Homo sapiens: one gene and its partners. The protein of the gene in region 1 purifies or fractionates together with the protein of each later gene. This does not show direct contact. Each region holds a gene or a part of one and is shown on either strand. Other genes may lie near its edges.

Region 1 (3,500 bases):
GCCACAAAGCAGTAAGACCAGACTTCATGTCTTAAGTAGATAGTATTTACTTTATAAAAACAAAATTTAACAGTTGTCATTAATGTAAACATTGGGAAAGGGTAGGGTTCAGCATCTTTTAAAGCTACAGAGGACAGTCTTCTTTTGTAATTAAATATACAAAGTAACATAAAGTCATACTTTGATAATTCAAATATAGAAGAGAGTGGTATCACTATATCTCTAGCAGCTGTCCACAGTAAAATAAAAGTACTTTTTTTTCTGTACAAATATCTTTATTTTCCTACTTAAAAAGAATCACGTACTCAGTCCAACAGCTTTACCAGGCTTGGCCAACCCAATAAGTTACACACTCACTCAGGTACTTGGAAGGTTATTGGACAGCTCCTTAACCGATCGAGTCAGCACAAAGTGGTCACTTTCCCCATAGCCAGACTCTGGATTTGCCTCCTGGGAGGACACCATGCCTGGCACAGACTGATGGGGTGGCTGCAGTCGAACCTTGCCTCCAGATTATGAACCAGTATAAGTAGCACAATTCTCGTGGCTACTTTCACTTCAGAGTGTCATGTTTATTGATGTGGAGCTTTCTGAGTAGGGAGGTTAAGGCACACCTGCTCAGTAAAACAAATATTTCTTTTAGTGTTCTAGATTGAGGGCAGCAGTCAATGGTAAAATAAATTTTGGTAGCATGTTCCTGAGAGGTTATACAGCAGCCCTGGCTCAAGGATTTCTCCCCCTGCACGATTCCTAAGAATACTTGCTAGTTGATTCTTTGTTTTGGCAATTTGATGGTTTTGATGAATTTGCTGTGATCCAGGGGTATTCAAGTACTTCTCTGAGCATTGGCCTCTGGCTGGGAACATGCTTCAACAGTCTTGAAATGAGGTCCCTGGCTCCCTCTGTTACAAAGTCAGGGAATGTGAATTCTCAACCCGTGATATTCTTTTGTAGGTCTCTTGGTATGTATTTGCCTCAAAAGGAGGCTTCCCAACTAAAAATTCACAGCAAAGAACTCCAAGGCTCCAGAGATCCACCTTCTCATCATGCATCCGACCTTCAATCATTTCGGGGGGCAGGTAGTCCAGGGTGCCACAGAGAGTGGTCCTCCTGGAAGATGGAGCATGTTCTGACCACCCAAAATTTGCAATTTCAAGCTCTCCAGCTGATCCAAGAAGTAAGTTCTCTGGCTTAATGTCTCTATGAATAACTGTTTTTGAATGACAGTAAGACAGGGCACTTGCCAATTCTGTGATATAAGTAGCAGTTCTCTGCTCATCAAACTTTGAAAGTTTCTGAAGTTCTGTATTGACTGTTTCAAGTGGTGTATATTCCAGAATTAGGTAGACTCTGGTGGCATCATGGAAATAACCATACAGTCTGATTATATTAGGATGTTGGAGGTGGGACTGTATTTCTACTTCTCTTCTGAGTTGATGCTCCACTCCTGCTTTCTCCAGCTGAGCTTTAAATAACACCCTAAGAGCCAGAATAAACTTGCTTTGTTTTTCTCTTGCCAAATAAACATTACCAAACTTTCCTTTACCCGGAGGGCGACCAATTTCAAGGTCTTCCAAAGCCCATTGCCTCTTTTTGATTCTTCATTTTTCTGTTTTGATGCCAGTTCCTCCTCAGGATTATTTTCAGGTGCCGACAGCGGGGACTGCTTGCTGTTTTGGGTGTTATTCAGTGGCCTGGAGGCAGGATGAGGTACACTGGTTGCCTGCAATTGCTTCTGCTTCTGATTCTGAACTGGCTTGTGACTGGAGACAAGCTTTTGTGCTTGCAAAGGAACACGCTGCGAAGAATTTGAAGGACACAAGACCCACTGAGCCTGGCCACTATTTGCAGGTAATGGATTCTGACAAGGAAATTGCTGAGTCACGAGAACATGTTCTGGACCTCCAACTGGAGTTTTAGCCTCAACAGGCCCTGAAATGCAGTTTTCTTCAGATTGGTCCGTGATGCCTATGACCCAAGGACCTGAGTCTTCCAAGAGCTCAGCCCAATAAAAGCACTTTTAAACCAACTGATACACCTCTATAATTCACAAGTAATTGAGGTGTTTTATGTTTTTACATATCCTCTAGAGATGAGCTAGGTTAAGAAATTACAACTATATCAGCTAAAAAAATTTAAGATGATCTCATGATTTCTGCTTCCCAATAAACATTTATAACATTAATAAATAAAGTGAAGAAAAGCAAAGGCAAATACCATCAGCAGTTTAAGTCAGGTCCTATTTACCTGCTCTGCTAATGTCATTTTTTCTCTGTAAAATTTCACTGTACAAAAGTTTACGTTCAAAACTCTTTATATTACGGCTTGGCCTAGACTATCTTAAAAGTGCTCAGAACACTTACATTAGCCTATAGTTGGGCAAAATCTTCTAACACAAAGTCTATTTTATCATGAAGGGTTGAAAATATCTCATGTAATTTCTTGAATACAGTACTTCTTGAATACCGTAGAGTACAGTCTCTCATATTTGCTGCTGCTACCCACCATCACAAAAGAGTATCTTACCCATTGTATCACTAGCTCTGGAAAAGATCAAAGTGCAAAATTTGAAGTATGGTTTCTACAAAGTACACATTGCTTTCACATTACTGTAAAGCTAAAAAATTGGAAGCCAAACCATCATAAGTCTGAGATCATCTGTACAGGTTTTACAAAGGGGCTCACTGGTGAAGAGGTCCATTCTGTTCATTTTCTACATGAACTGATCATAGCCACAATAATATCAACATACATAAACTCAAGAATTTGATTTAGAAGAGAAATACATTAAACCATATTTATAAATCTATAGGTATAGTGCAAATTAATCTAGATGTTTGGGGTGTATTTATATCCCCAACTGCCTATGTAACTTGGACAAGTATTCAATCTGTATGTACCTGAGTTTTAGCACCTATAACTGTGCCATACTATATTATAGGCATTAGCCACTTTGGCTACTTAAATTTAAATTAATTAAAATTAACTTGAATTTTAAAAATTCAGTTCCTCAGTTGCACTGGCCACATTTCACAGGCTCAATAACCACATGTGCCTAGAGGTTACCATACTGGACAGTAGAAATATAATGATGAAAATAAACAGGATGATATGATTGAGAACAACAAGTAGGAACAAGGGGGTTGTATTGACTACTTTAGATCTAGATCAGGTGGTCAGAAAAGGCTGCCCTGAGTTGACATTTGAGCTGAGACTTGAATGACAAGATGCAACTAGCATGCAAAGATCTGCAAAAAGCATCCAAGGCATAGACAACAGTGAGGGCAAAAACCTTAGCCACAAATGTGGTTGGCTGGTTTAACAACAAAAAAGAGCGTCTGAAGCATAAGAAATAAGGGGAGAGGTGTATAAGGTCCAAGAAATGGCAGGAAGCAGAGTCTCAAGGGCCTTATACACCATTTAAGAACTTTGGATTTTACGTTAAGTGCAATCAAAAACCATTGAGTGTTATTAAAAGGGCAATGTTAGGCTGGGTGTGG
Region 2 (3,500 bases), on another chromosome or scaffold:
CATCTCTACTAAAAATACAAAATTAGCCGGGCATGGTGGCACATGCCTGTAATCCCAGCTACTCGGGAGGCTGAGGCAGGAGAATGACTTGAACCCGGGTGGCAGAGGTTGTGGTGAGCCGAGATCGTGCCACTGCACTCCAGCCTGGCGACAGAGTGAGACTCCATCTCAAAAAAAAAAAAAAAAAGAGAGAGAGAGAGACATAATTGTAAGTTCTGATGCCATTCTTTGTAGTGTCCTGTGGTCCTGAAATGTTACTTGTTGATGCGTCACATCAGAAAATGTGAAATCTATATAAACTTTTTTCACTTAATGATTAATATCCTTCAATAAGATCATGTTATTACCTTAGATATTAAATTGTCCCCATATGTTTCAGCCAGAGTCTGCTAAAAGTTAAAAACATTACATGAGAACTCCTTAACCATTATGAAGGATTCTTTCTACTCTTGAGATTCATAATTCTGTGGGTTGCTATAGTCAGTATTTACCAGCATGTCTCCCATCTCACAATTTGGTACTCTTAGGATTCTTTGGTTCAGAGAATGGGTTCAGATTCCCATTCTGTCACCAGCTGTGCAGGCCTTGGTCAAGTTACTTGGTCAAGTCTCAGTTTACTCATTTATAAAATAGGGAAAATAATACCCACCTCATAAAGATTTTAGTATTAAATGAGATAATATACGTAAAATGTTTAGTATGGTACCATGAGTAGTGTATTAGTATTATAGTCTTTTTGAAAGTTTGCTTGCTTTAAGGGCGTGATGTTTTCACATTAAAGTTGGATATTTAATTGAAAATGTATAAGAATCAATAACTACACTTCTAGATAATAGAAATGCTGCCCGGGTATAGTGGCTTATACCTGTAATCCTAGCACTTTGGAAGGCCGAGGCGGGAGGATGGATCCCTTGAGCCCGGGAGTGTGAGACCAGCCAGGGCAACGTACTGAGACCTTGTCTCTATTTTATTAAAACAGTTTTTTTTTAAATTAAAAAAATAGATAATATAAATGCTAATGTTGTCTTGGCATAGAAATGCTTTTTCTTTTGTTGTTGTTGTTGTTTTTTTTTGTATTTTTGAGACGGAGTCTCCGTCTTTTGCCCAGACTGGAGTGCAGTGGCGCTATCTCGGCTTACTGCAGCCTCCGCCTCCCGGGTTCAAGCGATTCTCTTGCTTCAGCCTCCCGAGTAGCTGGGATTACAGGCACCCTCCACCATGCCTGTTTAATTTTTGTATATTTAGTAGAGACGGGGCTTCCACATGTTGGCCAGGCTGGTCTTGAACTCATGACCTCAAGTGATCTGCCTGCCTTGGCTTCCCAAAGTGCTGGGATTACAGGAGTGAGCCATGGTGCCCAGCCTGCTTTTTCATATATTAAAGGTAATTTGTGTGTGTGTGTGTGTGTGTGTGTGTGTGTGTGTGTGTGTGAGATGGAGTCTCACTCTGTCGCCCATGCTGGAGTGCAGTGGCATGATCTTGGCTCACTGCAACCTCTGCTTTCTGGGTTCAAGCAGTTCTGCCTCAGCCTCCCCAGTAGCTGGGATTACAGGCGCCTGCTACCACGCCCAGCTAATTTTTGTATTTTCAGTAGAGATGGGGTTTCACCATGTTGGCCAGGCTGGACTCAAACTCCTGACTTCAGGTGATCCGCCCACCTTGGCCTCCCAAATTGCTGGGATTACAGGCATGAGCCACCGCACCCAGCCCCTAATGACGATTTTAAAAATAGGCCCAATAGCTTTTTTGTTGTTGTTGTGAGTTTTACCAGTGGGGTTAACTACAGCTATTAGGTGTCACTGTCAAAATAAATGCATAGAACAAGGGAGTGGAGAGCAATGAGGGAGTAAAAGAAAAAGGAGAAGGAAAAAGGTAGTTATGAGAAGGTACAGGCTGTGGCATGTACCTGCAAAAATTAAAGTGTTTCTGTTGGTCTAGGTTGCTTTCTGTGAAATTAACATTTTAATAGAGTACTGAAGTAAAGTATTTTTGTATTTAAAAAATATCAATATTACAAATGCTTTTTTTGGTAACCTAGTTTTAAGTGCTGTAATTTAAAACCTATATTTGAAAATATTTAAGGATACTATTGCTTTTAATAAAAAAAAACGAAGGGCTGGCCGGGCACTGTGGCTCATGCTTGTAATCCTGCACTTTGGGAGGCCAAGTCAGATGGATCACTTGAGGTCAAGAATTCAAGCAGCCTGGCCAATATGGTGAAACCCATCTTTACTAAAAATACAAAAATTAGCTGAGTGTGATGGCACACACTTATAATCTCAGGTACTTGGGAGGCTGAGGTGGGAGGTTCACTTAAACCCGGAAGGTGGAGGTTGCAGTGAGCCGAGATCACACCACTGCACTCCAGCCTAGGCAACAGAGCGAGACTCAAAAAAAAAAAAAAAAAGAAAAACAAAAACACTAAAGCTCAAAAACACAGTGGCTCATACCTGTAATCCCAGCACTTTGGGAGGCCCAGGTGGATGGATCACTTAAACTCAGGATTTCGAGACCAGCCTAGTCAACATGGGGAAATCCCATCTCTACTAAAAATACAATTACCTGGATGTGGTGTTGAGCACCTACTGTTCCAGCTACTTGGGGGGCTGAGGCAGGTGGGTCACTTGAGCCTGCGAGGTCGAGACTTCAGTGAGCTGTGATTGTGCCACTGCACTCCAGCCTGGGCGACAAAGTGAGACCCTGTTTCAAAAAGAAAACATAAAACTAAGAAATTTAGGTAATTTTCTACCTCTAAAATAGAATTTTGATTTTCTTTTTTTTCTTGAGGCGGAGTTTTGTCCTTGTTGCCCAGGCTGGAGTCCAATGGCGTGATCTTGGCTCATTACAACCTCCGCTTCCCGGGTTCAAGCCATTCTCCTGCCTCAGCCTCCCGAGTAGCTGGGATTACAGGCATGCGCCACCATACCCGTCTAATTTTATATTTTTAGTAGAGACGAGATTTCTCCATGTTAGTCAGGTTGGTCTCGAACTCTCGACTTCAGGTAATCTGCCTGCCTTGGCCTTCCAAAGTGCTGAGATTATAGGCATGAGCCACTGTGCTTGGCCGAATTTTGATTTTCTTATATACAACTCTTAGATAATTTAGGAGTTAAAACGTGAAACACCATGCCTAAAAGAAATTAGACAACTAGTTCTGAGTAGAGAAATATATTTTTAGAAAAGAAAAATTCAGAATTTTCCTGCAAAGTATAGTTTTTTGTTCCACAGTTACTTTCAGTTAACTATAAGCCTGTACTATAGGCCAATGCTATCCAATAGAACTTTCTGTGGAAATGTTCTGTATCTGCCCTGCTGTGTATGGAAGCCATTAGTCACATGTGGAATTGAGCACTTGAAATACAGATACTGACTGAAGAACTGAATTTCAAATTTTATTTAATTTTAATTAATTTACATTTAAGTAACCACATATGACTAGTGCAGCAGTTTTTGGGTGATAATTTTTTCTCCGACGGATATTTAGCAATGTCTGGAGTTAT
Region 3 (3,500 bases), on another chromosome or scaffold:
CTTGGGAAAAGAAAAGATGGATTTTCTGTCCTTAAGCCTCTGGAAAATACCTTTAGCCTTTAGAGAATTGTGAGAGAAACATGTTTGAATATGAACTTGTGAGTTCCTATGGAGAAAAAAGGTCAATGTAAAATCTAGCACCAGGATATATTTATTAGAGATATGAATTGTACTTTCCTACAGGAGAAACTGCAAAAATGGGAAAATGGAAGGGGAGAAGAAAAAGGAAGTGAAGGGAGGTGAAGCTACTTAGTTAATGGTGATTAATTTCAGTACATTATTGAGTTAATTTCAGTAAAGTAGATTTAAATTTTGAGTATGTATTTTATTGGAGGGGATTTTATGTGGAGAAATTTGTTCTGAAGTTGAAAATGTGTTTATGTCTTATGAGCATCTTTTTAGAATAATTTGATTTTCATATTGAAAGCCAAGGGTTTTTTTGTTCTCATTTCTACTCATCCAGTGAGTGTACATTCCTAAGAAATTGTTTTTGTTGCCAAGTTTTTAGTTGATTTGCGCATGGCCTGTTTTTTGTGCCTGAATATAATTTCTTTTTTTTTTTTTTTTTTTTTGAGATGGAGTCTCGCTGTGTCACCCAGGCTGGAGTGCGGTGCTGCAATCTTGGCTCACTGCAACCTCCGCCTCCTGGGTTCAAACAATTCTCCTGTCTCAGCCTCCCGAGTAGCTGGGAATACAGGTTTGTGCCACCACACCCAGCTAATTTTTGTATTTTTAGTAGAGACAGGATTTCACCATGTTGGCCAGGATGGTCTTGGTCTCTTGACCTTGTGATAAGCCCGCCTCGGCCTCCCAAAGTGCTGGGATTACATCCGTGAGCCACCGCGCCTGGCCCCTGAATTATATAACTTTTAGGGAAGCATTTTCTGTTTTTGTTTTTATCAAATAGTTGTCCTCCATCAAAAAGCTGTATCTTTCACATTTTATGAATGCCCTCCCCATATATATATGTGGAATAGTATCACTTGAATTGCATCGTATTGATCTAATTTAGAGTAACTGCTTGATTTATTTGAAAGTTAAGACTACAGTGTGTTCATAATTCATGTCAATTTATGGGGCTTAATTTCTGTCTCATGAGTTAGTGCCATAGAGTCTTTGAATCTCTTCAGAATTTCCATTACCTGGGATCCCATACCTCTTGTCTGGCTGTTCCCATTAATGTGCTTTTTTTGGACCGCAAACATGTCATGTCAGATGGTTAATGGAAAGATGAGATTAAAACACACCACAAGACTCTGTGCATATGGAAATCTGAACTCACGCTATGAATTGGTGATTATTAAAAGCACAAAAAATTATTAATTTAAGAAATGAAAAGTATAAGCGTCCTATTTCAGTATAACTTGCCCTGGTATGTTTAAGTATGAAGTGCATGTGGAGAGTCTCATAAAATTTAAAGATAAATTTTAGGAACCAAAAGCAATTGTACATTAATAAGGATTAATATTAGGCATATCAAAAATTCTGTGAAATTAAAAATTAAAAATTCTGCTTGTTAAACCTCAAATTCCCCTTTCTAAAATAGGATAGGGAAAGGTGGAAAAAACTAATCATGCAAATAGCTTTTAATTATCCTCACCATTTTTAAAAGTAATAGCATACTTTTAAAATACATAATTCACTCATTTAATAGAATGGAATTGTTGGATTACAAATCTGCATTTACCTTTCTGAGGAACTGCCCAAGTACTTTCCAAAGCAACTACACCATTTTACTTTCCCACCAGTAATGTATGACATTACCAGTTTCCCCACATCAACCCAGCACTCGTTCATTATTCATCTTTTTGATTATAGCCACCCTAGTGGGTGTGAAATGGGTGGTTTTGATTTGCATTTCTCTAATAGATAATAATGCTGAGCATCTTTTCATATGCTTATTGGCCATTTGTGTATCTTCTTTGTGGGGAAATACCTATTGAAATATACCTAATGTAAACCTTACCATTTTAACTATTTGAAGTGTACAATTTATTGCCAGTAAGTACACTCACGATGTATGTTACCATCACTATCATCCATCTGCAGAACTTTTCATTTACACAAACTTGAAACATTGTACACATTAAAGAATAAGTCCCTTCACCTTCCTCCCCACAGTTCCAGACGACTCTAAATTGACTATTCTTGATAGCTCATATAAGTGGAATCATACAATAGTCGTTCTTTTTGTGTCTGGCTTATTTCACTTTGCATAATGCCATCAAGCTTAATCCATGTCAGAATTTCTTTCAGATTAAAGACTGGATAATATTCGTGTGTGTGTGTGTGTTTATCTCTCACATTTTGCTTATCCATTCATGTGCTGTTGGCACATTTGGGTTGTTTTCACCTTTTGGGGATCTATGGAGAAATGGGATTCCTGAATCATAGGGTGGTTTCATAATTTTTGTTGTTGTTGTTGTTGTTGTTTTTGGAGCAACCAAACTGCTTTCCACAGTGACTGCATTGTTCCTACCAGCAATGCACAAGAGTTTTGGTTTCTTGGCTGGGGGCAGTGGCTCACGCACTTTGGGAGGCTGAGGTGGGCTGATCACGAGGTCAGGAGTTCGAGACCAGCCTGGCCAACATGGTGAAACCCCGTCTCTACTAAAAATACAAAAAGTTAGCTGGACGTAGTGGTAGGCACCTGTAATCCTAGCTACTTGGGAGGCTGAAGCAGGAGAATTGCTTGAACCCAGGAGGCAGAGGTTGCAGTGAGCCGAGGTTGCACCACCACTCTCCAGCCCTGGCAACGGAGTGACACTGTCTCAGAAAGGAAAGTTTCAGTTTCTCTACATCCTTGGCCAGCCAATACTTGTTCACTTGTTTTTTAGATAATAGCCAACCCTAATGGGTGTAAAGTGGTATTGTGATTTGGATTTACATTTCCCCAAGATTAATGGTGTTAAGCATCTTGTGTGTTTGCTATTTGTATATCTTCTTTGGAGAAGTGCGTATTTAAGTACTTTGCCCATTTTTAAATTGGGTCATCTTTTTTGTTAAGTTGTAGGTGTTCTTTATATAATCTGGATATTAACCCCTTATCAGATAAAAGATTTGCAAATATTTTCTCCCATTTCACGATTTGACTTTCTGCTCTGTTGATAGTGTCCTTTGATGCACAAAATTTTAAATTTTGATGTAATTCAATTTATCAATTTTGTTGCTTGTGCTTTTGGTATCACACAGTATCTTTAAGAGACAGGGTCTTGCTCTGTCGCTCAGGCTGGATTCCAGTGGTGTGATCTTGGCTTACTGCAGCCTCTACCTCCTGGGCTCAAGCAATCCTGTTGCCTCGGCCTCTTGAGTAGCTGGGACTACAGGTGCATACCACCATGCCTAATTTAAATTAATTAGTAATTAATTATTTTGTAGAGACGGAGTATTGCTGTTTGCCCAGGCTGGCTTCCAACTCCTGGGCCCAAGTGATCTTCCTGTCTCGGCTTCCCAAAGTGCTGGGATTACAGGCGTGAGCCACCACACCTGGCCTCGTATAA
Region 4 (3,500 bases), on another chromosome or scaffold:
CTGGCCTGGTCTGAACTGCCTCAGCCCCCAGTGTCGGGATTGTAGTCATGAGCCACCGTAACCAGCCTTGATGAGATGTAATGTTCCTATTCTGCCTTCTTGAACTTTGCTCAGTCAGTACAAGTATTCTGTTCAAACTGATTAATTAAACCCAGGAACTGAATACATTTAGATAAAACTTGCTACTTGAGACTGGGGCACTGGGTAGATTCGAATGATGCCGTATCTCGTGATGTCTACCCTCTCACTATCCACATTCAGGGATGGAAAGGATTTGGGGAGTGAGGAATGTTTATAGAAGTTCAGCCCAGCTCCCTGCTGTAGAATGTTCTTGTATGAGCAGTCCAGCAGTCAGTAAAGCAACCCTTTTCATTGTTGAACTGCTCTCATTCTTAGAAAGTTCTTGTTTCTGTTGACTTGAAATTTGCTTCCGTGGTTTAATTTTTCCCGCTGTTCCGAATTCTTTCACGTGCCACGCAGGATGTGCCTGTTCACTGAGTTCATAATCTTACTTCTCATGGGCCTTGTACTTAGCCTTCTTCAAGCTGATCATGCCTCAGGTTTTGCCTCCTTCTGTCACCAGGCCTCCTCTTCTGGGCGCCGGCCTCTGGCTCTTCCCTTGGGGTCTGGCCAACACCGCAGGCTTTGGGCCAGCATCAGCTGCTCCCAGGCTCTTAGCTCTTGGGAGTTGCTCCTCCATCCTTTGCCTCCCTGGGCACTGACATTGCACCTGGTCTCAGTCCAGGCTTGGCCAGCCTGACCGGCTCTGTGGGGCCTCCTCTCCCTATAGGATGGCCAGACGCCGCGCCCTCCCACTGTGCTCCAAGGCCCCACCCTGCCTCTCTGGACACTGGATCTGTAGTGTAACGGGAACAGGTCACATGACAGTTTCCTTTCTATAACTTTTTATCTTCTGTAGACTATTGAGATTTAGTAAACATGTCTGTTTGCACATGCTTAAAATGGTTGGAATGTTTTGCCTTGTCTGTGTTTGCAAGCGATGAAAATTAAAGGTGGTAGGGATTATATTGATTTGTTTAATCTTGGACTCGACATCTTCAAAGCTATATTTTTTGGGTGATACTTGAAAATCATACAATGTCTGCCTGTTTATTTATTTATTTATGAGATGGAGTCTCATTCTGTCACCCAGGCCAGAGTGCAGTGGCACGATCTCTGCTGATTACAGCCTCTGCCTCCAGGGTTCAAGCGATTTTCAGCCTCTGCCTCCCGAGTAGCTGGGGTTATAGGCGCCTGCCACCATGCCTGGCTAATTTTTTTATTTTTAGTAGAGACGGGCTTTCGCCATGTTGGTCAGGCTGATCTTGAACTCCTGACCTCAAGTGATTCGCCTGCCTTGGCCTCCCAAAGTGGTGGGATTACAGGCATGAGCCACTGAACCAGGCCAGTTTTTTGTTTTGTTTTGTTTTTTGTTTTTTAAGACTTAACTTTGTTACTCTTTGTTTTGTTTAACATTTCAGGATCATATGCCAAGTAATAGAGGAACATTTGTTAGGTTGGGCTAGGAATGGGGACTGGGGTAAGGCCGACTGTAGTTCTAAGAAGAGGTTCCAGTTTAACACCATTTCTTTAAAGAATTTTACCGTATTTTAATTCAGAGCAAAAGCCACACAGCTGCATATAGGCGTAAGTGAGTCCTTTGAGGAAGTAGGTGACTGAGCTGTAACAAGTCAAGATCATACAGCCGAGGGATTGCAGTGCATGTCTCTTTTCATTCTGAAAGAACTTCTCACTATTTAAAAACTATTTTTAAAGTTACGAAATATTTTGAAATATAGTAAACTTTTTTGGCCTTTTTTTCTTCTTTTGCTTCTTGTCTTCAGTCTGCATATTTTTTTTTTTACCGAAAGCCCACCTCTCTAGTAAGTGTGAAAGGAAGAGAGTGAGAAACTGGTGGTGTGACCTCTACTCTGGAGCCCCGTGTCCCTTCTGAGAAAGATGCCTCTTGTTGTAGAGAGGACACACAGTGGTTCTGCTCAGCTGCACTTGGGCATGGAGAACAAGAACCGATATAGACGAAGGCCTGAATCCGCAGAGGGAGACCCTGGGTTAGGAGGCACTTCTGCAGCCTTCAGAAAATGCAGACAAATTAATTCACTTATTGGACTGCTTTAATAGAATAGTGGCTTGCTCTGTGGATTCACAGAGGATTATTTGAGGTCAATGATTGGAATGTGATTTTAGAAAATATTCTTTCCTTGGAATTCTTTGGTTTTATGCTGTAATGTAGTTTGTTTGTTTGCTTTAAAGGAAAGTTTGTGCTTTCAAGGAAGGTTTTAGGATGAAATGGCCAAAAATCAAAAAACAAAAATGATCATCTTCACTTGAATGCGGGTGCTACATGAGTCTAGCCTTAGATTTGTATTATTCCAAAGTTAGGTAAGTGAGGTCAGCCACAAGATATTATACACTAGACATTTTACATTGATTTAAATTATATGGTTGGAGCTTGAATAGATTTTATAATATTCTTTGGACCAAACCTGCCTATCAGAATCACCTGTGAACAGTTTTTTAAAATAATAGCGACTTTGATCGCACACGTGGAGGTGCAGATCTAGCCAACATACTGTTTTAGGAACAGCTCCTTGTATTGTCTGTGCCATGCGTGTGTGTGCGCCATGCATGCACGTGTGGGGTGTGTTTGTGTGCACTTCTGTGTGTATCTACGCCTGTGTGTGAGTGACCACTTGATCATGCACACACATCCCTTAGAGGCACGGACTTGTGGACTTATCGGTCAGTTAGGAATGTGTTGTGTGCACGTGTGTCTATGTGCGTGTTGCATGCAAGTGTGAGGTGTCTGTGACTACACACATGCCAGTCTCATTATTCCCAGCTTCTCATACTGCAGTTGTTTTTGTTTGGTACAAAGGTGGAAGCTCTGCCAAGGTTTTTTCTTGATGCGAGCCAGGATCGAAGGGCTATGGTGTTTAAAGCTTGCGAGCTGAAGGCCCTTGGAAGGCAGGAACCTCAGATAAATTGTAGTCTGTAAGATTCCTGGTCGTTCTCTGGGGGGAGTCAACAATGATCTGTGCTTCACTCCCAGCGTCTGTTGACCATGCTTGGCTCTCAGGAGGCCGGACCAAGGACAGCGTTTGCACTCCTGGTCTCACCACGCCCAGTGTTGGCTTAGGGAACCTCTTGTGAATGCAGCCATGGACATTTGCTTTTCAGAGAACGAGAGTGAAGGTTTGGGGAATGTTTCTGTCCTTACCTATATTGGCAGTAGGCAGTGTGAGAGGTGGTGGTTCTTGGGTTGTGTTCCCCTTGCCTGGTGTTTTCCTCTGATTTCATACTGCTATAAAGAACTGCCTGAGACTGGATAATTTATGAAGGAAAGAGGTTTAATTGACTCACAGTTCAGCATGGCTGGGGAGGCCTCAGGAAACTTAGCATCATGGCAGAAGTTGAAGGGGAAGCAAGGCACCTTCTTAACAAGGCAGCGGTAAGAAGTGTCGAGTGAAGGGGGAAGAGCC
Region 5 (3,500 bases), on another chromosome or scaffold:
AGGCAAGTAATATCTACTCTTTTATTGGTCTAGGAAAATATAACTAGGTCCGTTTCTACCATGAAAATCTAGGTCAGATTTGTAGATCTTGGGAGTGAGTTTAGAACAGTGCTTGACATATATTAGCTGCTTATCTTTTTATTCCTAACTTCAGATTCCAGTAGAATCTTAATGTGTGGGTGTTTTTTTTTTGCCTGCTGTTTCCATTTAGTGTGATTAAATTGTTTTTCTCATTCAGGCTTCAAAAGCACTTAGAATACAATGCATGTGATACATGTCTGTAAGTGAGATTATATGTACGGGATAGTATGTTCTATATGTACTCTAAGTCTTATATACAGATGCCTTTATCTACAGATGCCTAATTGTATAGTTGCCAATGTGTAATAAGACTAAGGGTTAAGGCTTTAAAAAGATTGTTTTTCATTTAAAAGGGATTTAAAGTACTGAATATTAAGCTCAGTTTTTTCAGTTGTCTGATGGTAGGATAGAAAGTTAAGTTACAAGAATTAAATGTAACTTTTGCATTTAATTAGCTTTTTCCTGTGTCACTTAAAAATTATTTGTATTAAAGTGATCACATATTTCTTTAGAAGCCGTGATGAGAGGAAAAAAGATGATCGTTCTCGCAAAAGAGATTATGATCGAAACCCTCCTCGAAGAGATTCATACAGAGACCGGTACAATAGAAGACGAGGGCGGAGTCGCAGTTATAGCAGGAGTCGAAGTCGAAGTTGGAGTAAAGAGAGGCTTCGTGAGAGGGACAGAGATAGAAGCAGGACTAGAAGCAGAAGCAGAACACGAAGCAGGGGTAAATAATATATTTTGGTTATCTTTTTATGAAAAACTCCATGTTTAAATGTTTTTAAAAATTGCTTAACATTTTGTCAGTGTTGTCTTCATTTTTTTCTATTATGATGTATTCTGTGGTCCAAGAGAATGCTTTTTAAAAATTCCTTTAAAAGTTTTATTCCTTGCAAATTAAAATCACAGTTACCACTACACATTCAACAGGATAGCCACGATGATACAGACTGATTCTATTCCATGTTGGTGAGAAAGTAGATAAGCTGAAACTCTTTGGAAAACATTTTGGCAGTATGTAAAAATATTAAAACTACACTTAGCATATGGGTCCGCTATTCTACTTCTTACTGTTTACCTGGAAGAAATGAAAGTGTATGTCCACACAGGTGTTTGTTCACAAAGGTTCATAGCAGACTTATTTGTAAGAGCCAGATCTAGAAACAGCCTAAATGTCCATCAAGAGGTGAATGTATAAACATGTTGTGGTATATCCATACCATAACATGGATAAAAAGAAAAGAACTATTGATACATGCAACAAAATGGATGAATCTCAGTATAATTATGCTGAGTGAAAGAAGCAGGACAATACATATGTATGTTAAAAAATTTTTTTTCTTAATCTTTGTTTTTGTGACAGAGTATTGCTCTGTCGCCCAGGCTGGAGTGCAGTGGTGCTGTTTCAGCTCATTGCAACCTCCGCCTCCTGAGTTCAAGCGATGATCATGCCTCAGCCTCCCAAGTAGCTGGGATTACAGGCAAGTGCCACCATGCTCGGCTAATTTTTGTATTTTTGGTAGAGTCACGTTGGGGGTTTCACCAGGTTGGCCAGACTGGTCTCGAATTCCTGACCTCAGGTGATCCACCCGCCTCAGCCTCCCAAAGTGCTGGGATTATAGGCCTGAGCCACTGTGCCCAGACTAGTTTTTAAAAATGCAAACTAATCTGTGATGACAGAGAGCAAAGCCAGTCGTTGCCTGAAATGGAGTAAAGGAGGGATGATAGATTACAGATTACAAAGGGGCATGAGGATTCTTTTGGAAGTGATGAATATGTACATCATTTATTTGTGGTATTGGTTTCAGAGGTGTTATATCTTGATTAAAACTTATACAGTTTAAATATGTTCAGTTTATTATATATCAGTTATACTTCAAAACTATTTTTAAAAGTTTAAAAAGTTTTATTTCAGATATATATTTTTGCAAGAGCGTGTCATTCCCAACATGTATAATTTTCTTCTAGTACATGTTATTGAAAGTAAGATGTTGTCGTAAAACACCTAAAACACTTTTCAGTAAAGCACCTTTTCTCAAACTTTTTTTGCTACTCTTAATACTATTTATGGCCTTTGTATAAGCCCTGTATTCTGTTACTCTTTTCTTAGAAATTTTCCCCTGCTGTGATCTAGGTATACAAGGCTTCATGGAATGTTACTTCACTTAACTAATCTCTTTAATTTCTTTTCTGTTTCCTGAGGACCATATGTATAGTCTAGTTAATTTCTTTGTGCATGTTTAATATGAACTCTTTCTGGGTCATCCGTTCTTATCTTAATATAACAGCCATTGTAGTAACTTTAAATGGATGACTACAAAATGTTCATCACAGGAAAAATAACCATACTTTATTGCATGTTTTGTTTTGTGGTCTGTAATTATGCATACCAAGATTGTGATGAAGAAAATATAAAATTCCTTTTTTCTATAAACAAAACTCTAAGGAAAAACATTAAATATGGCAGCATTACCTGGTTTTGTAGTTTGGGTTATATTAAAAAGAAATCGCTTACCTTTTAACATTGTATATTAATTGAATATTTTTTAAAAGAAAATGATTATTATGCAAAATTTAAAATTTTTTTTCTATGTTTATAAAAATATCACTATTTCTTAGATCTGGGACTTTTTTTTTTTTAATACAGTGTAGTTTTATATGTCATTTATCTTTCGTTGCAGAAAGGGATCTGGTAAAACCTAAATATGACCTGGATAGAACAGATCCATTAGAAAATAATTATACTCCAGTCTCTTCGGTACCTAGTATTTCATCTGGCCACTACCCTGTACCTACTTTGAGCAGCACTATTACAGTAATTGCTCCTACTCATCATGGAAACAACACTACCGAAAGTTGGTCTGAATTTCATGAAGACCAAGTGGACCATAACTCTTACGTAAGACCACCCATGCCAAAGAAACGGTGTAGAGACTATGATGGTAAGTCTTTCAGCTGTTTGATAAAGTATTTAATTAATATTTCCAGCTGCCTAAATTCTGTGTTTATGTTGTACATAGTTATTCAAAGACTTACCTCTGAAAAGTGGGAAATTAGCCTTAGTCACTTTTTGAATTCCTCAATATGATTGAAACATTTATTAGTTGCCACTAATTTGATTATCAATTTAAAGGTAGTATTTATTTGCAAGTAAGTCTTAATAAATTGTGGGAGTTTACCAAATGAGTAAATATCTACTGAGTTTTTATCAGGGAATCTGCTACTGAAACATTATTGACAAAACTCATTTCTTTAGAATGAGTGATTATTGGACTGTAAATAGAAATGTATCTAGAAATGTAAATGTCACCTTTGTAAGAATTTTATTAAAGAATTAAAGACTTTTGGCTGGGCGCAGCGGCTCACGCCTGTAATCCCAGCACTTTAGGAGGTTGAGGTGGGTGGATCATGAGGTC
Region 6 (3,007 bases), on another chromosome or scaffold:
ATGTTTCTCACATAAAAGATGATGCTTTATCCTCAACATAGATTAAATAGTCAAAGAAAACTATGGTTCAGGGTAGTTTTAAACCTCATAGCACAATGAATAATAATGAATAATAAAATGTCATTACATTCTCATCTTAAAAATTATAGGCTGGGCGTAGTGGCTCACGCCTGTAATCCCACACTTTGGGAAGCCAAGTTGGGAGGATCACTTGAGCCCAGAAGTTCAAGACCAGCCTGGGCAACATGGCAAAACCCCATCTCTACAAAAGATACAAAAATTAGCTGGGTGTGGTGGTGCACAACTATAATTGCAGCTACTTAGGAGGCTGAGGTGGGGGGATCTCTTGAGGCTGTGAGGTCGAGGCTTCAGTGAGCCGTGATTGCACCACTGCACTCCTGCTTGGGCAACAGAGTGAGATACTGTCTCAAAAGAAAGATTATATGGCAAAAATATAAGTATTATCATTTTTATATGAAATAGTTTTAAAATATCATTTTAACATTTCTTCTTTTTCCTTGCCTGATACATTTCCCTCACTTATTCTAATTGTTGGTAATAACAGGTAAAGAGGGAACTGGGGGCAGGAAGGAAAGGAGGTAAAGTGAATGTTCAGAGTTTGAAAATAAAACAAATGAAGCAAATGTCAAAGCAAGAGCTTTTACAGTCCTACAACCTTGGGAGAAAGTTTCCTCACTCTTACAAAGGAAAAAGCAATGGTAAAGGTTGAGGCTGCTGACAAAAGCAGGTTCAGGTGTGCTTTGGTTCAACCCAGTCAACATTTAATGAGCATCTAATATCTGCCAGGCACTAGGGATTCAACAGCAGGAAAGTTTTCAAGAAGCTTGTGATCTAGAACAGATGTCCTGAGCTCCTGTGAAATTGAAATTGGGGGTTATTTGTATATAGGGGTGAGTGGCAGAGAAGGGTGGGAGAAATGGCTTTTTTGTCAACTTCACAAAGGAGGCTTTTGACACTCCCCCGCCAAAAAAAAAAAAAAAAAAGTTACTGTGGGCAGAGCTAAGCCTCTGTGACCCATCATGGATTAGAGAGGGAATCTCTTACTTTTCCCCCCATCTGCAAGAGCTCAACAGGTAAACAGAGGTAATTCAAAACGTTTCTGTCAAGGTCCCAAGTTACTTTAATGTCTTCAGGGCCAGGTTTCCGCTGGGAAGTGGGCCTCATGTTCTCTGATTTCTTATTGCATCCTGGGTGAGGTGGTGGCTGGAGTGCTATGTCTAGCATTGCTGGTTTCCCCATCCCAGGAACATAGAGGCTAGTTTTATATCAGTGTTTAATGTTGAAGTAACAGTGATAATGCTGCAAGAGTTGAAATTTTGTTTTGTTTTATTTGGGGTTTCTTGCCAGATCAGTAGCTGGATATAAATGTTGTACATATTGTTGATTTTGTTGATGTTCAAATGTGTCCTTTCCTACCTGTCTCTGATCATTACTCTTTGTGTGTGATTAGATCCTTTGCTGAAGAATCTATCCCAGGAAATCATAGAATTACTCAAAAAGCTGGTTGGGCTTGAGAGCTTCTCATTAGCCTTTGCCTCTGTACAGAAACAGGCTAATGAGAAAAGGGCACTCCGGAAAAAGAGGAAGGCCCTGGAGGTAAGTTTGCTCTTTGAAAATATGGCATGTTCACTGGACTTGATAACTACTAAGTGTGCATGTTTGTGTCACACTTACACTTAGGGAGGATCAAGGGTTTGAGCGGTTGGGGACTTTATAGCTGGGACTTCAGATTTTCTTTAATGAGCATGTGTTTTTTACATTTATTTCTGTATTTGATTCTTATTGGTTTAACATTTACTTTAAAAGTAATATAAAATTTCTATTCTCTTTTCCAGTTTGTAACTAATCCTGATATTGCTGCCAAGAAAAAAATGAAGAAACACAAAAATAAAAGTGAAGCAAAGAAGAGAAAGATAGAGTTCCTGCGTCCAGGATATAAGGCCAAGAGACAAAAAAGCCATAGCCTGAAAGATTTAGCAATGGTGGAGTAATGTCTCCCTGTGCTGATACAAGCATGAACTTTCTGGAATATTCTGCTAGTCTGAAATTACAGTAGGTTGTCTGGGGTAGGGGGGAGGCGTTTTTTTTTTTTTTTGAGACAAGGTCTCACTCTGTCACCCAAGGTGGAGTGCAGTGACGACATCACAGCTCACTGCAGCCTCAACCTGGGTTCAAGTGATCCTCTCACCTCAGCCTCCCAAGTAGTTGTGCCTCCTAGGCACACAACACTATGCCCGGCAAATTTTTTGTATTTTGTATTTTTTGTAGAAACAGGATTTCGCCATGTTGGCCAGGCTGGTCTCGAACACCTGGGCTCAACTGATCCGCCTGCCTCGGCCTCCCAAAGTGCTGGGATTACAGGTGTGAGCCACCCTGCTCAACCAGGTTTTATTATTTAAGTTAGTTAAACTTTGGATAGATTGTATAATATATAGTTTAATGTAATCATGCTCATATTTTTTAAATAAATAAAACACTATACTACTGCTGGGTCTTCACTGTTTAAAAAGCATGTGACACTAGTCAGAGTTTAAAATATAATTTGTAAATAAAAGGATACATTTTTAAATAGCAAGAAAAAATGTAGAAGTTAGCAATTAATCAAACAAAAGATTTGCAAATACTGCTCTATAGTACTTGCTAAAATTTTAGGAAAAGGCAGTAAGAAAGATCTGCACAAACGGAACTATAACCATGTTCTTGGCTAGGAAGATTCAGGATCATAAAACGCTACTTCTTTTTCCCAAGTTGATCCTTTGGTTAAATGTGTATCTGAGCAAAATCCCAAGAGTTCTTCACGTTAACCCAACAAGCTAATTCTAAAATGTATATGGAAGATGATATTAAGCCAAGAATAACCATGACACTCTCACAAAAGTAGAACAGGATGAGGGGCTTGCCCTATTGGATATCAAAAGTAAGACACAAAAACTATCTATAGAGAGAACGTGTAATAAATCCTACTTCATTAAGAACTTCTGCTTAG

What was found.
Region 2: the proteins of RAB3GAP2 (region 1) and UPF2 fractionate together in Homo sapiens (co-fractionation; one large-scale study listed by BioGRID). This does not show direct contact.
Region 3: the proteins of RAB3GAP2 (region 1) and PPP4R2 fractionate together in Homo sapiens (co-fractionation; one large-scale study listed by BioGRID). This does not show direct contact.
Region 4: the proteins of RAB3GAP2 (region 1) and FAM120A fractionate together in Homo sapiens (co-fractionation; one large-scale study listed by BioGRID). This does not show direct contact.
Region 5: the proteins of RAB3GAP2 (region 1) and RBM26 fractionate together in Homo sapiens (co-fractionation; one large-scale study listed by BioGRID). This does not show direct contact.
Region 6: the proteins of RAB3GAP2 (region 1) and UTP20 fractionate together in Homo sapiens (co-fractionation; one large-scale study listed by BioGRID). This does not show direct contact.

Annotation. Positions count from the first base shown.
Region 1 is NC_000001.11:220,265,954-220,269,453, forward strand, and holds part of RAB3GAP2 (rab3 GTPase-activating protein non-catalytic subunit), read right to left. Parts: intron 1,763-3,500; exon of another isoform or gene 226-1,762; intron 1-225. UniProt on the Homo sapiens protein: Regulatory subunit of the Rab3 GTPase-activating (Rab3GAP) complex composed of RAB3GAP1 and RAB3GAP2, which has GTPase-activating protein (GAP) activity towards various Rab3 subfamily members (RAB3A, RAB3B, RAB3C and RAB3D), RAB5A and RAB43, and guanine nucleotide exchange factor (GEF) activity towards RAB18.
Region 2 is NC_000010.11:12,036,310-12,039,809, reverse strand, and holds part of UPF2 (regulator of nonsense transcripts 2), read left to right. Parts: intron 1-3,500. UniProt on the Homo sapiens protein: Involved in nonsense-mediated decay (NMD) of mRNAs containing premature stop codons by associating with the nuclear exon junction complex (EJC).
Region 3 is NC_000003.12:73,041,811-73,045,310, forward strand, and holds part of PPP4R2 (serine/threonine-protein phosphatase 4 regulatory subunit 2), read left to right. Parts: intron 1-3,500. UniProt on the Homo sapiens protein: Regulatory subunit of serine/threonine-protein phosphatase 4 (PP4). May regulate the activity of PPP4C at centrosomal microtubule organizing centers.
Region 4 is NC_000009.12:93,510,685-93,514,184, forward strand, and holds part of FAM120A (constitutive coactivator of PPAR-gamma-like protein 1), read left to right. Parts: intron 1-3,500. UniProt on the Homo sapiens protein: Component of the oxidative stress-induced survival signaling. May regulate the activation of SRC family protein kinases. May act as a scaffolding protein enabling SRC family protein kinases to phosphorylate and activate PI3-kinase.
Region 5 is NC_000013.11:79,368,256-79,371,755, reverse strand, and holds part of RBM26 (RNA-binding protein 26), read left to right. Parts: intron 1-593; coding exon 594-811; intron 812-2,765; coding exon 2,766-3,026; intron 3,027-3,500. UniProt on the Homo sapiens protein: May be involved in the turnover of nuclear polyadenylated (pA+) RNA.
Region 6 is NC_000012.12:101,384,112-101,387,118, forward strand, and holds the end of UTP20 (small subunit processome component 20 homolog), read left to right. Parts: intron 1-1,471; coding exon 1,472-1,617; intron 1,618-1,856; coding exon 1,857-2,012; 3' UTR 2,013-2,507; downstream 2,508-3,007. UniProt on the Homo sapiens protein: Part of the small subunit (SSU) processome, first precursor of the small eukaryotic ribosomal subunit.